2 separate regions of the Homo sapiens genome follow, and region 2 is linked to region 1. A link means that fine-mapping ties the variant in region 1 to the expression of a gene that starts in the linked region. Tissue or cell type: whole blood. Region 1 holds a variant in brackets; the other region holds the start of a gene. All regions are shown on one strand. Distances are from middle to middle.

The links. PIP is the estimated chance that this variant, and not a neighbour inherited with it, causes the effect.
Region 2: ADSS2 starts here. The variant in region 1 is fine-mapped to the expression of ADSS2 in whole blood (TOPMed, PIP above 0.99).

The regions. Positions count from the first base shown.
Region 1 is chr1:244,382,963-244,391,227 of GRCh38, reverse strand. It overlaps SPMIP3 (sperm microtubule inner protein 3), which reads right to left. Exons shown (of 5, transcript NM_001012970.3): 5 at 1,565-2,277. The coding sequence ends at 2,159. Among named protein-coding and RNA genes, the nearest start is that of SPMIP3, 34 kb to the right of the region's middle. The variant A/C (reference allele first, on the strand shown) is at 3,716.
Region 2 is chr1:244,448,405-244,456,404 of GRCh38, reverse strand. ADSS2 (adenylosuccinate synthase 2) reads left to right here and starts at 4,496. Exons shown (of 13, transcript NM_001126.5): 1 at 4,496-4,770. The coding sequence starts at 4,588. It also overlaps a transcript of CATSPERE not described here. RefSeq lists silencers at 4,107-4,596, 5,037-5,316.

The DNA.
Region 1 (8,265 bases):
GGCTTCCCAAAGTGCTAGGATTACAGGGGTGAACCACTGCACCCGGCCTCATTTTTTAATAAGCATGTTTGTACGTATACATACATATTTTAGGCAAAAATGTTTGCTTTATTTCCTGTCTTATTCCCTCATCATATAACATAAGATGTACTGACCTTATATATAGTATTTGAGTATTGTTAATGCTACATCATAGTATTTAAGTTATAGACTATCAGAAGAGTAAACATCATTCAAAGACTTCACCTCCTCTTCCGGGAGGTAAACACCCTGGGATTAGTGTGTTTTCGGTTGTGCGCAGAATGTTAATATCATGTTAGGCAGGATTATGACCTTGTTATTTATTTGGAAGTTAAGTATGGTTTAAGATGTTTATGGGTGCCAAGTTGACAAGGGGTAAACTTGTGATGGTTAATTTTTTTTTTTTTTAATCGAGACAGGGTCTCACTCTGTCACCCAGGCTAGAGTCCAGTGGTGTGATCATGGCTCACTGCAACCTCGAACTCCTCAGGCTCAGGTGATCCTCCCACCTTAGCCTCCTGAGTAGCTAGGACTATAGGCATGCACCACCATGCCTGGCTAATTTTTGTATTTATTTGTAGAGGTGGGGTTTCACCATGTTGCCCAGGATGGTCTCAAATTCCTTTCCTCAAGTGATCCACTCACTTCTGCCTCCCTAAGCACAGAAATTACAGGAGTGAGCCCCTATACCTGGCCTGATGGTTAACTTTATTTGTTCACTTGATTGGGCTAAGGGATGCCTAGTTAGCTGGCAAAACATTATTTCTGGGTGTATCTGTGAAGGGGTTTCTGAAGGAGAGTAGTGTTTGAGTCAGTAGACTGAATAAAGCAGGTGTCCTTCACCAACGTGGACAGGCATTATCCAATCCTTTGAGTGCCTTAATAGAACCAAAAGATGGAGGAAGGATGAATTTGCCGTCTCTGGTTGAGCCAGGACATGCATCTTCTCCTGTCTTTTGACATCAGCACTCCTAGTTCTCAGGCCATCAAACTTGGACCTAGACTTACAACATTGGTTCCCCAGTTTTCCAACCTTCGAACTTGGACTGGAACCACACCACCAGCTTTCACGAGCTTCCAGCTTGCAGATGGCAGATCCTGGGACTTCTCAGCCTCCATAATTGCACAAGCCAATCCATCAAAACAAATCCTCATTTCATACATACATACATAATACATATATATATTCTATTTATATATATAATATATCTATTATTAGATTATTAATAATATATCTATTATTTATATATTATATATAAAATAATATATTATTAGATTATTAATAATATATATTATAGATATATAATAATATATATGTATATATATATATATTCTGTTTCTGTTTCTCTGGAGAACCCTATCATTTGATCATTGATTGGCCCTTCACATTTAAGACTAAGGCAATGGAAAACTATATGGAACTCTGCATTCTTGGGAGAAGTTTATCAGTTAATAGGTGTTACTTTAGAGTGAGTGAGGAGGGAGTCAACTAGTATGCTGGGGAACTGGGGGAGGGCAGGGGTCCCTAGAAGCCAAATGTAAGGTTTTTTTCCTTTGGGATTCTTTCCTCTCCCTAGAGAAGACCCTTTAGCTTTCTGCCTGAGGAGCTGATGCCTAGTTGTCAGGCTTTCTTCTTGCCAAGATAGGGGTGCTAACTCCTGGACACAGACTCTCAGTTAATCCTTTTTATCAGTCCCACATCTCGCTACAGCCTCAGGCTACACCTGGGTTTCTCCATCCAGAGCCCCTTGAGGGTCTCCAGTGCCAGTTTTCTTTATAATTGGCCATGTCCCCCCGGTTCTTTTTTTTATTTTTCCCAACAGCGATGCAATTATTGTGCAGACACAATGATCTTCTTACCTGATCCTGCGTATACATTGGCCTAAATGTAAGATAGCTTGCCAGCATCAGCAATAAGACTGGGAGTGGGGCTTAAATTCAAGTTCTCTTAAGGATAGATCTTGATTCCCTGTTCTAAGCTGACCAACTTAATCTGCAAAGAATTTGCAACATGTAAATATTTTAGGATTATAGCCATCTGTATACACACTGAAACTGAAAGTAGTTCTGCTGCCATTAACTTAGTCTAAAAGGGCCACCTAAGAATGCCAAACGTTATTTTGTTCGAATGCCGTGGTTATTTTAGTTTAAAAGCATTTCTTTCAAAGCTGCTTCTCTCTTCACAACAGTAGAGCTCTGGCAGTGAATTAAGCGGTCGAGGATTCAGCGAAACTGTGGCTAATTTCTGGTTCCAATCTGGAATTTAAAACAAATTAAGGATTTATTTAAAGACTACTCACTCCTAATTTTTAACACACTGTCCTTTTAGCAGTTGTGCACAGTAACAAAATAACTTTTGGGGTTTAAGACAAATGAATGCATTTAAAATGTGGGAAAAAGGACTCAGTCAAAAGGTTGTTTCTTTGGTTCAGTCTCTGATTAAGAGGCATATTATTGAATTATGCCAAAATGTAAATAAAATGAAATAAATTACATAAATTTGCATGTCGACATCTCATTCTGTACCCCCAAACCTTTTTAGTCGTACATTATCAGTGCATTATTTTGTATCAAATTGTACTCATTGCCATCCCTAAATTATTTTTTTCTCTTTTTTCAGAGGTTTCTTTGTTTTTTCAAATTTTATTGACTATAAACCTTTGGATTAGAAAAGTTCAATGAACTCCAAACAGAATAAACAAAGTTCAAAACCATACAAAATCAATCACTATGTTATTTAGGAATAGATACGTATATGGTAAAAACAGTCAATAGCAAAGGCAAGATTAACACAAATTCAGAATAGAGAGTACGTCTGGGGGGAAGGATGGGGGGACTCAAAGGCTTTAAGTATATTAGGGAATTATTTTTCACAACTGACCTAAGGAATAAATAAGTATTTTATTATTACTCTTTAAATTGAATATATACAAAATATTTTTTGCAGGTATGATAGATATCACAATAAATAGAAAATAGGCCAGGCGTGGTGGCTCAAGCCTGTAATCCCAGCACTTTGGGAGGCCGAGGCGGGTGGATCATTTGAGGTCAGGAGTTCGAGACCAACCTGGGCAACATGGTGAAACCCCATCTCTACTAAAAATACACAAAATTAGCCGGGCGTGGTGGCAGGTGCCTGTAATCCCAGCTACTCGGTAAGGTGAGGCAGGAGAATTGCATGAACCCGGGAGGCGGAGGTTGCAGTGAGCCAAGATCGCACCATTGCACTCCAGCCTGGGCAACAAGAGTGAAACTTCGTCTCAAAAATAAAAAAAAAAAAAGAGAAAAGCAAAGAAATCAATGAAGTTCATCCATTCTTTTGTGTTACTTATAATAACACAAACTAGAAACCTGGGAGTCACCCTTGACCACTCTCTCACCAACCAAATCCAATTAATTTTCACTTCCTACTTCTCTTCACTCCCCCATCACACCCTGGTCCAGGCCACCTGGACTTCACCTGAAACACTGATATCCTTTCCTCTTCCTTACACTCCTGCTGTAATCCAACCTCCACACAACAGCCAAAGAAAACACTTTACACCTTATCTTTCTTCAACTTGAATCTATTTCACCATCCCTTTTGCTATCAGAAGCAACAGAGTGACAAGTACATTGCCCAGGGCCACACAGCCAGGAAATGGCAGAGGCAGAACTCAAAATCTACTGGTCTTACTTGAGATTTCACATGTCT[A/C]CACCCACTCTCCTACCTTGGGTGATACTGCCGTTCCTAAATTCATACCCATTGGTGTTCCCTTGTATTTTATAACCTCTAATCTATAATCATTAACAATTTTGCTTATCTAAAAATAAGGGTTCAAAGAGAGCTTCACTTTAATACAATTATTGCTCAAGGAACCAAAGGCTAGTGTTTCAAAAGCATTGTAACAAAACTTTTTTTTTTTTTTTCAGACGGAGTCGTACTCTGTCGGCCAGGCTGGAGCGCAGTGGCGCCATCTCGGCTCACTGCAACCTCCACCTCCCATGTTCAAGTGATTCTCCTGCCTCAGCCAAGTAGCTGGGATTACAGGTGCCCGCCACCACCCCTGGCTAATTTTTGTATTTTAGTAGAGATGGGGTTTTGCCATGTTGGCCAGGCTAGTCTCGAACTCCTGACCCCAAGTGATCCGCCCACCTTGGCCTCCCAAAGTGCGGGATTACAGGTGTGAGCCACTGCGCCCGGCTGCATTGTAACAAAACTTTATTATATTATTAGGTGAATATTAGAGTTTATTACATTAATATTCAGAGTAATTCTCAGTTGTACACTGATATTGCCATCTCAAAAAGATTAATTTGCCCAAGTATACATAGCTTATAAGAGGTGCAGTCCACATCTGACACAGAACAGACTCCAAAATCATTAATCTTTCACTGTTCTAGTCTGCATTCCTTAGTGCTTCAACAGTATCTCAAGAAATAAACATTTCTGGATATTAAGAATGGATAACATTTCACTAACCCAAGGAGTATGACTAGAAATGAGATCTTTGAGGATTTTTAGATTTAATCGAGTGTGATCCTGTCTGTAGTCAGCAACCACATGACTTTTCAAGTTTTTTTATGGAGTCAAATAGCAATGATGGCCTTCTAATTACACTATATTCTGGAAATGTATTAAAGTAATTTAGAAGTGTGAGGAATTCCATTCAGCAACTCCTCATGATCCTTGCAGGCTGTACGATGGGGTTGAATCATACACAACTTAACCAGGTGAACTCAACAGTCAATGTTGTGAGAACAGTGGGTGTTATCAACCCTGAAACGTGCTACACAGATTGGGGATGCTATGAGAAGAAAGTGTGAAATGATTTTTTGGATTTCCTTATCATCAGACAAAATGCAGTTATTGTTCATGTGGATTTGTGGTGGTGACTCCTTTGAAAGTCATTGTTGGAAAATAAAATGAATAATTAGTTGATAACCACAGAGAAACTTTAACCACCTTGCTGAGGATTCTGTGTATTCCAAATATGTTAATGATTTAATATAATATCACTCTTTAACAATCAAGAGTTTTTGTTTGTTTGAGATGGATTTTCACTCTGTTGCCCAGGCTGGAGTGCAGTGGTGCGATCTTGGCTCACTGCAACCTCCGCCTCCTGGGGTTCAAACAATTCTCCTGCCTCAGCTTCCTGAGTAGCTGGGACTACAGGCGTGAGCTAATTTGTGTGTGTGTGTGTGTGTGTGTGTGTGTGTGTGTTTTGTAGAGATGGGGTTTCACTATGTTGGCTAAGCTGGTCTCAAACTCCTGACCTCAGGTGATCCACCCACCTCAGCCTCCCAAAGTGCTGGGATTACAGGTGTGAGCCACCGCACCTGGCCAGTCTAAGATATTTTTCAAGGATTACTTTGATCATGCATGATTTTTACCTTGTGCACCGATTTTAGAAATTAATCTCAGTGATATATGCAATTCCATTGTATTAGTATTTTACAGATATTGATTCTGGCATACATTATTCTTGATCAATAATACTAATAGTAACTAACATTTTTGAAGGCATAGTAATAGTACATACAGGCACAATGCTTACATTCTTTATATGGGTATCTCAATTCTATTAGGTAGATACTATTTTTATGCTTTTCGCAGGTGAGAATATTGAGGGTCAGAGAGCCTAAGGGCCACGCTGTTGGTAAAGGCATATATTTTATTTTGGAAAAATGAGTTATTTGAATTATTTGGCACCAGGGTGAGTAATACAAGGGTAACTTTCCTCTGAGGGGCCATCTTATCCTCCCAGGCTATGAATTCTCTGAGGACAGAGCCTTCTCCATACCCTCCACTCTGTCTTGCACATAGTCAGTGCCCAAAAAATGTTTCCTAAGGAAATCAATGAAATTATATGTGCTGAGAAATAATTTTAACTGAGGAAGAATTTCTTAAGCAATAACCATGATCTATCATGGTCTATATTTAATCAGACACCTCAGAGAACTGAACATAAATGTAAATCCTTGCTAATCTAGACATACCTTCTGCCCTGAAAATCTGATCAAACACTGGCCTAGGCTGGGCACGGTGGCTCATGCCTGTAATCCCAGCACTTTGGGGAGCCGAGGCGGGTGGATCACCTGAGGTCAGGAGTTCGAGACCATGATGGTGAAACCTTGTCTCTACTAAAAATACAAAAATTAGCCAGGCGTGGTGGTGGGTGCCTGTAATCCCAGCTACTCGGGAGGCTGAGACAGAAGAATCTCTTGAATCTGGGAGGTGGAGGTTGTGGTGAGCTGAGATCACGCCACTGCACTCCAGCCTGGGTGACAGAGTGAGACTCCATCTCAAACAAACAAACAAAAACTGGCCAAATGGTTAGGATAAACAGCCTATACTTTGATAAACAACTTAATATTCTTTCTCTTATTCTGTGAAAAACTCCCTCAAGGAGTGCTTGTCAGGCCTCTTGCAGACCAGCCCTTTGCCAGCCTATTGTTGTTTATACAATCATTGCCACCTAAGCATCTCTCAAATGTATCTAAATCTACTGCCAACACCCATCATCTGCTGCCTAAATCACTGCTTCTCAAACTTGGCTGCGCTATGGAATTATCTGGGGAGTTTTAAAAATGACTGATGCCTGGGACCCCCACTTTGCCGCCCCACACGGAGATCCTGATTTAACTGGTATTGGGTATAGCCTGGGCGTCCAGATTTTTTAAAACTCCAAGCAATGTAACCAAAATTAAGAATGTTTAACCTGGCCAGGTGTGGTGGCTCATGTCTGTAATCCCAGCACTTTGGGAGGCTGAGGTGGGCAGATTGCTTGAGCCCGGGAGTTTGAGACCAGCCTGGGCAACATAGTAAGAACCTGTCTCTACAAAAAATACAAAAAGTAGCTGGGTGTGGTGGCTCATGCCTGTAGTCCCAGCTACTCAGGGGGCTGAGGGAGGAGGATCACTTGAGCCTGGGCTGCCAAGGCTGCGGTGAGCTGAGATTGCACCACTGCATTCCAGCCTGGGCAATGGGAGTGAGACCCTGTCTCAAAAAAAGAAAAAAACTTTAACCACTGCAATTTCCTCCTGACTCTCCACATTCAATCTTCGCCCCATGCTGCTCCCCACCCTGCCCCTCCTTTTCTTCTCCACAGTTAGAGGAACATTTTCAAAATGAATTTTTTTTAATTTTTTATTTCCATAGGTTTGGGGAGAACAGATGGTGTTTGGTTACATGGTAAGCTCTTTAGTGGTGATCTGTGAGATTTTGGTACATCCATCACCCGAGCAGTGTACACTGAACCCAATTTGTAGTCTTTTATCCCTCACAAAATGAAATTGTAATCATTACTTCTGCCTTCCTTAAAACTTTTCAACAGTTTCCCATTATTCTCAGACTAGAGGCCAAACCCTGAATATGACCTGTAACGTCTTTCATACTCTGGTCTTTCTTCCCATCCCTCCACCGCACCCTGCTCCATGATCCCTCCTGATTCCTATACTCCAGCACACCCTTATTGTTTTTAGTTCCTCAAACATGTCATGCTCCTTCCTGCCACAAGGCCTTTGCACATGCTGTACTCTCTATGAACCTGTTTCCCCACTCTCTGCCCAGTTAACTTTTAGCTTATCCTTCAGCTCTTGGCTCATCATTTCCTAAGGGAAGCTTTCTCTGACTTACTATATGCTCCTATAACCCCATATAAACTCTGCCTTATAGCATTTAAGGCAGGTAGACTTTTATGGTTATTTATTTTTTTAGAGTTGGGGTCTTGCTATGTTGCCCAGGCTGGAGTGCAGTAGTATAATCATACCTCATGCAGCCCCAAACTCCTGGGCTCAAGCAGTCCTCCTGACTCAGCCTCCTGAGTAGCTTGGACCACAGGGGCCACTACACCCAGTTAATTTTTAAATTTCTTTTGTAGGAGTGGGTTCTCACTGCGTCGCCCAGGCTGGTCTCAAACTCCTGTCCTCAAGCTGTCCTCCCACCTCGGTCCCCCAAAGTGCTGGGATTACAGGCATGCACCACCACACCCATCCATGGTTATTGAGTGTAGAAATCTTGTGTCTATTTTTGCTTCATGTGGTATGGCTAAAAGCTGTCACATTGACTGGCACTTAAATAGGCCCTCAAATTATTTCCTGAAGGAATATGTGTGGGTAAGTGAAAGTGTTCTTGATATCAAATATATCACCAAGTCCAGTTGATGCCACCCCCAAAATATCGCTGGAATCCATTTATTCCTCTTTATCTTCCCTGCTGGTCCCAGCCACCATCATCTCTGGTCTAACCTATTAAATTGTTTC
Region 2 (8,000 bases), 65 kb before region 1:
ATTCAGCACCTGTAAGATTTTTTGTTTGCCAGTTTCTTAATTGGATTACTGGCTTCAGGGTGGAGCCCCTGGAGGAACAGGGCTAGGAAAGCTTGTGTTTCTAGGGCCAAACAAGCAGCTGAAGGCAAAGACGGATTCTTAAAATTAAGGGTGCCGCTTTACACTGGATCCTGGATCCCAAGAGGACGGAAATACTTCGAGAGAAGACAGTGCAGTGCTTTTACCAACTATGCATTTCACTGCAACGCAACCCAAAGCCAATCAGTCCATTTGTAATTAGACCATCCCCCATGGGATTCTCATCTCTCTGTTGGGGGGCGGGGGGGTGTTTCCATGTCTTCCAGGTGGCCAAAGCATGCTTCTCTGATCCAAGTGTGCGAAGAGCCAAGTATGCCTCCGTAACTACTATTAGCCAACTCCTAAAGTATATTTCCTACCTAGTTGTTATACACCAAAGCTCTCTCAGAATGAGAAGTAATTTCTGATGCCCCTAAAACTCAAAACCGTCAGATAACACAATGCAAAACAGAATAGAGCCTTGGATTTTGAGAGGGATCTGTCTGCTTTTAATTCTTGGGGTTTCATGAGGAAAACAGAGCTTTTTTCCAAAACGGGGTCTGTGGTGCCTCCTGTTTTTCCCAAGGAGTCCCAGGCTACCAGAAGCTATCTCAGGGCCTCTCATGTGTACATTAAGATAGGCAAAACAAAAAAGTGGAGGAAAATAATTCAGTTGACTGAGAAGGAAAAAAAGACCTTTTTCCAGAAAAATAATCTTTTTCCAGAAAAACAAGATCCAAGAAGAGAGAAACATAAAGGCCTTTTAAATATACCTACAGCTTGTTTATCCACTTTTAATTAAGCTGACTTTTAACCATAGCGCTCTTTAAAAAAAAAAAAAAACCCTTAAAAATTTTATACCCAACTTTAGCCACGCCAAGCGGCCAATATTTTTGGCTTTTGAATTCTACCACAGGTAACTTCCCACCTGAAATTAAGTTTTAACTAAGTTTATAACCATGGACACACAGGTGTCTCAAAGAGATGGTAAGCAGTTTTTTTTTCTACAAGATGTAGAATCTCCCCCAGGGTAGTTTAGAGAAAGGAAAATTCAAGACAGGAAATCAGAAGCTATTCATGGGAGCGGGGGGACGCGGGAACCTCAATAAATGGCAAAGTTACAGAAATAAAAAACCAGAAGGGAATCATTCCAGAAGCCAGGAATAGAACCCAGACCCCCCACTGTCAAGAGGCAAAACCTTAGCTACTGAGTTACACAGTATTGAGCAGTTTCTATTGTGCTTCCCAGAAGGAGCCTACAGAAGCCAGTTTCAAGCTTGCAAAGGCTTTTAACTGCTCAAGAAAATTCTTAGGGCTAACCTAAAAATCCCCAAATTCCTGTCTTCTAGATGGTGGAAACCAAGAGAAAGTATCTCCACATGGTCACAAAGTTAAGCTCTTCAGGACACAAAACAAGACAGAGAAATTTCATACAGTATTGGCTTCAGGGACCTGTAGCAAAGTTTGTAACTGACCAGCCTGCCAAGCCGGCTTGAAAAGCAGGCTTATAGGGGTCCTAAACCCACGTTCTATCCTGTGACACCCATCTATCCACTACAGAACACAGAAAGACAAATTCTTAGCACAAAACTACACCAGATTTGCTACAGCCTAAGACTAGTCTCACAAATCCTTTTTTCCATTTATCAAACCCTTGCAGAGGAGGTAAACAGTTTACTATTTACTGAGAAAGAGAGAGAGAGACCACAAACCGGTCCGGTAAGAATTTCATACCCTCTGTGCCGGCATACCAGATTTCCGGGTTCCCTTTCTCTGCAGTTTCCAGAAGAATGGAGTGGCTTTTGATGACCCTGCTTGCTTGTGCTATAGCTGTGGGGTTCAAGCCACTTTACAAGAGAAAATCACCCTTTACTGTTTTATGGAAACATAGACGAGATTCTTAATTTGCAAGATGCTGCCCAGCGGGCTGCATGGGGAACCGAATTAACATTTTCCATCCCAGCAAAACACACATAACAAAACACACATTAGCCACCTCGTTCAGCTCCCAATATCAGCCTGGCAAAGCTCAAAAACTTTTTCTCTTTGGTCCCTGTTGTCTTTGATCCACTCCAGGTGGGGAGGGATGACCTCCGAACGGTAATTCACAATGGGGTCTCTGGGCAAGACGAAGAGCAGATAGTCACCCCGAGACAGGCCTGTTGAGCCTTCTGTAGGGCTCATCAAATGTGACCAGACAAATAAGGAGGGTTTTGAGTTAGGTCTGCTGGACTTCCATCAGCAACCTCTTCTGAGATCCCTTCCACATATACAAACGCACACAAAGACGAGAGGACAGAAGGCGTTCCCAATCAGATCCCTAACCAAGAACTCCGGGAGTATCCCTTCCAAACTATCCTCCTATTCTCCTTCTGAGAAACCTCCTTGAAATCTTCCTGATTCAGGAGAAGTCTCCCAAACCTGGACTCTTCCTACTAGTTAGAAAGAGCCAAATGAGACCCCCCCAGGAGCCGAACAGACACCCTGCAATGGGGCTACAGACACCTCACCATAGGGCTACAGAACCAGTTGGGAGAAAGGAGGCGTTGGCAGCACCTAGGATACTCACCAATCCAGACACCCTGCCCTGCAATGGGGCTACAGACAGACACCCTGTGATAGGGTTACAGTTAAGGGACGTCTCCCCGGGGCTATTTCTCCATTGCAATTAAATCCATGCACACTGGGTTGGCAGCACCCCACCAGTAGAGAGAGTACCAGAGTCAGCCCCCAGTCCAAGAGAACTGGGTGGCCGCTTGGGCAGGCTTCTGGATCCATTGCTGGAGGGGGGCCACTGAACCACGAGTAGGTAGCCACAAAGGCAATGCCAGACAAGCCCCCAAATTTGTAACCGCCCAAGGGGTTCACCTTGTCCACTGCCTAGACAGAGCCAATTCATCAAGACAGGCAAATGGCAATAGAGAAAGAGTAATTCATGTAGAGCTGGCTGTGCAGGAAACCAGAGTTTTATTATTACTCAAATCAGTCTCCCATAAATGATTTTAAAAAATTGAATGGAAATGACTAGTAAGGTGTGCTTATTCAGTATCTACTATCTGCCCAACACTACCTCGGGCATTTGACTAGAAAGAAATAGATGGCATTCTTGTTTCCAAAATGTTTGTGATCTTGTAATAAGGCCAAGATAGACAACAATTATCACATAGTATTATAATTGTTTACTAATCAATAGACCAAATAATTTGAATCCTTGAGGGCTGAATTGTATCTTTATTTCTCCTATGTTATCAGTGCCCAGGACACTTAGTTAGTTAATAGCAGGTTCTCAATGTTCCTGACTTAACTCATTGACTAGAAATAAAATACTAAAGTGTACTCTAGGGACCATTAGTGAACATACAGTATGTACAGGCGATTTGGGAGACGGTACATATAATGTGATTCCATTCCCACTTTTTTTCGAAGCACCTTTTATCAGAATTAAACATCATAGTTAATTTGTGTTGGTGTCGAAAGGGCATTAGATGAACAGTAGGTATACACCAGAATCTAGTTACAAATGTAACTGAGAGACAGTGGAATCTACAGGAAGGACATGGGCTCTGGACTTAGATTATCGAAGTACCAATTCAAGCCTCACTAGGGCAAGTTACCCAGCTTTTAAATCCTGTAAAATAAGGATAATAGAGGATCACCTACCTTATATGGTTGTGGGGATTAAAAAATAAAGAAGTGCATGACGGTATCTGCATATATGTACTATATGCGACATAGGTAATCCACTCCTCCTCTCTGAGCCTTTGTTACTACTATGTAAAATGAGGATTAGGACTTTATTTGATCTATTGATTTCAGGTCTCATGTCCTTTATCTTATTGCCTTACTTTTGAATTTTGTCTTTTTTGATCCCTGTCCCCATCTCTGTTACTTCCGGACTTTTAATTTCCAATTCTACACTTACACGTTCCGATTTTATGCTGTTTGTACTGCGAAATTCCACAGTTTGTATTTTGTACACATTCATTCCTTAATAAAGACAAATCCAGACAAACCTGCAGATGGCAGACACAGTGGCCCCAGAATACACCGCCGCAGCCCAGAGCGTTGCATGCTGGGATTTGTAGTCCGACGCTCCACACGCGCTTCCGCGCCTCTCCAGTTTGAAAGCGAGAGGTAGAGCGGGTAGGCGGGGTGCTGAAGGAGAAGCGCTCTCGAAGCCCCGCCCCTGACCTTTTCCGCTCGCGAGGTTTGCACGGGAGTGGCGCGCCAGGCCGCGGAAGGGGCGTGGCCTCGGTCCGGGGTGGCGGCCGTTGCCGCCACCAGGGCCTCTTCCTGCGGGCGGTGCTGCCGAGGCCGGCCTGCGCGGGGCAGTCATGGTACCCCCTTGAGCGGGCTGTGGCGGAGAGCGGGGCGGGGACTGGCTGGAGGGTGGCGGCCCGGCGGGGCGGGGGCGGGGCCGGCCTCTGGCTCCTTCTTCCTCTGCATGTGGCTGGCGGCCGCAGAGCAGTTCAGTTCGCTCACTCCTCGCCGGCCGCCTCTCCTTCGGGCTCTCCTCGCGTCACTGGAGCCATGGCGTTCGCCGAGACCTACCCGGCGGCATCCTCCCTGCCCAACGGCGATTGCGGCCGCCCCAGGGCGCGGCCCGGAGGAAACCGGGTGACGGTGGTGCTCGGTGCGCAGTGGGGCGACGAAGGCAAAGGGAAGGTGGTGGACCTGCTGGCGCAGGACGCCGACATCGTGTGCCGCTGCCAGGTGAGGCGACGGGGCCTCTCATGGGAAGCCGGGCCCGGGAGCTCGGGCTGCCTGGCTCCTGGTGCCCGGGAACTCGGACCCAGAACCCGGATCCACTGGCCAAAATGAGGTGTCACCTTGAGGCTCTCTCCTCCTGTCCTGAGCTGCGGCTACGTGGAGAAATGGCGGGAGGTCGGGGACCCCTGACCTGGAGCGTCGGGTGAAACTTGGGGTGGCCCTGGAGGAAGAGGTGGGCTGGCGGGGAGCCTTTGAGAGATGCGCGATGCCTGGCAGTTGCAGTTTTGCGTCTGGCGAGTGGTGCTCAGCGCCGGGACTGAGGCCGGGGTGGAGGTGGGATGCGGTCCGAGTTTGAGGAGCTACCGCCCGAGGCCTGCTCCCAACTCTTCCGACTGCGGGCGGAGACCCGGCGCGACGGCAGAACCCCCCATCACCGCCCCCCCGCCCCGCCCAGGGCGGCGGAGTGGGAGTGGATTGTTTCGAAACGTCCTGAAATCAGACTCACCGATCCCCCATCTGCAGGACCGTGGCATGCAGTGCTTTGCTTCCTCTGGTCCACTTTGTTGACATCCAAACCCACCCACCTCTGGGCTTTGGACTGTTGTTTTAGGGCCCTGAGTTTCTTGTTTTTGTTTTTGTTTTTACAGTGTGCTCCATACATGAAAGTTAAGGAGAAATTACTTTTACTAGTTGGTCCCAGAGGAAGGAATCCCTTCTCTGTTCAAAAAAAGTGAGGGAAGTAAATACATGGATGTCAAATTGAGTATTTGGAAATAAATATTTGCATTGTTAAGGTGACATCGAAAGTGAACTTTCGGAAAACGAGGTGGTAATGTACTTCTAACGGGAGACACGTGGTTTTCAGTGTAACCTTTCTTCCTATTTGTCGTTTCCTTTGACGCAGCATACAGGGTAAGGCCTTTGTAAAGGCTCTCAGATAACTCTCTCCAGTTTCAAAATTCTAAGCAGATGAGCAATAACCACTTTCAAAACAAAGCATAATGTAATATTTGAAGTTAACTGCTATCTGTTTAGGTTGCAAGAATATTTGTTTTTGAACATGCATGGCATGATATGATGGTGCCATGCTGTATATGTTCTAGTAAGTTATAGGCCCCCTTGAATACCATTTTGAGCATGCAGAAACAATGAAATCACAGGTATGTTAAAAAGCTAAATGCAAATACTGCAAATATTCTCTGATTTACCTTGTTTCGTTTTGTTTTGTTTTCATTTAGAAATCCACCCTGCCCATTCTGAAATAGCTGTTGCACTAATTGCCTCTTAGGAAACTGTCACTACCACCTCTCCCTCCTTCCCTTCCAGCCTATTATTTCTCCACCCCTCTGGCAACACACTTTGTACCTTAGCAATCTTCAGGGTGTTGCCATTAAATTCCTGCCCCGCACTTTCTTAGGAAATACTCCAGAAATCCAGCCTTTACCTACCTTTTGTCTTACATTCAGATCTGGTCATGCTGTGGGGAAGACGTATCCGAATACCGAGCTTTCTTGCTGTCGACAGCGGGAGAGAGGCTGAGGCCTGTGTGTCTCCTTCACTGACATCTTGACATCTCGTTAATATGGAAATAGCTCAGGTTGAGCTACACTATGGGTTGTAAGAAGGTTTGGAGAACACAACCATTATGGTATTTATTCTAAAGGATCCTCAATTTTAATATTCTATGGAGAAATATTAGAAGTAGTTTGTAGCTTGGAGAAGGTGTTACTAATGTTACCGAGAAAGTAGTCTTGAAGTCATGGACCAACCTGATCTGATGCCCTTGGAAAGGCTAGAGAAGTGATTGAGAAGGAACTAAGTTTGGCTTTAAAATGTTAGCTGAAGATAGTGGAGAAACAAATGAGGGGCCTTGTTGGGCAGACTTCCCTCACCTGTGTATTTTTGACTTAACTACCTTCCTTATAGAATCCTTATGTTCTTTTAGTGCTTTTTAAAAGTGTATCATTAGGATTCTTTATTAGTCTTGTTAGCAAAAAATAGATGAGTAATGAATAGATTTAAGCATTATCTCTTTTGTGATTTACCTTGGTAACTTTGTATTATTTGGTTAGCCCTAGTAAGCTGGCATCTACTTAATGAAGTTCCCCTAGGTTATAAAATTGGAATGTTGAAGTTCTTAGTGAGTGTGTATAGAGAGCTGGAAAAAATCAACAGTAAGACATTGTGAGCTTGGATTGCCTTGTTTGATGTCTTAAGTTTTGTGTGTTAGTGAAAATATGTCCTTTGTTAGAGTTTAATATATTCTGCCATATTTATGTCATGAGTTCAAATTTTATTCAGTACTGTTTCTCCAGAAGTGATGTACACATAATGTATCCGTATTTCACCAGTAGACTCATAAGGACTTTCTCCCAACATAAAATATAGTTTTAAAAAGAAAAACTGGCATTGCATTTAATGATAAATTTTAATGTATAAAATGCCTTTTTGGAAACAATAGATGCAAACCTAGTGGCGTTTTCACTCTTAACAGCGCTTAAGGCCTGTGTTGTTCAGATTCAGGATTTATGGGGAGTTATTTATAACTTGGTAGGTTCCCCAGATCCATAAATATGTAGGACTTGCATCAAAGGACAACCACTACTGCTGCCTTAATTTTAAATCAATATTTATTTTAAGAAGAAGAGAGAAGAATTAAATAGAGGCCCAACCCTGGGTACAGGTCATTCATCTAGTAAACATTGAGTATCTGCAGGGGATCACTTAGCCTGGGAGTCAAAAATCTGAAAAAGGCAGGGATTGTGCCCACAAGGAGCTCACAATCTGGGGGACAACTGCTGTGTAAGCAAAAGTGTTGAGAAGGTCGGGATGGAGAAAGGTACTAGTCTAATACGTTTCTCAAGAGGTTAAAGTATGGGACCAAGAAAGTCCCTTTCTGGCATCACAAAAGGAAGCCTAATACTGTTTTTTCCCCAGTTCTCTCAAAGTAAAATACTGTGCTTTGTTTTCTGTATTTTGCTGAGTAGAAGCTACAGAAACTTCTTAACTATAGTAGTTTATACCAGGCTTTAAGCAAAGGCTTACTTATTTATTGTTCTTGAGGAAAGTAACTTCGGTGGTCTTGGTTATAATGACACACATGAAGTTGCCTGTGATCGGGAAAGGCTAGAGCAGTGTTCCGTGTGTATTCTCTCCAAGGCTTCAAAGTCAATAAAAAGAGAAAATACTAAAGTTAGTCATAAGGGAAAGCACACCCCATCACTTGATATATG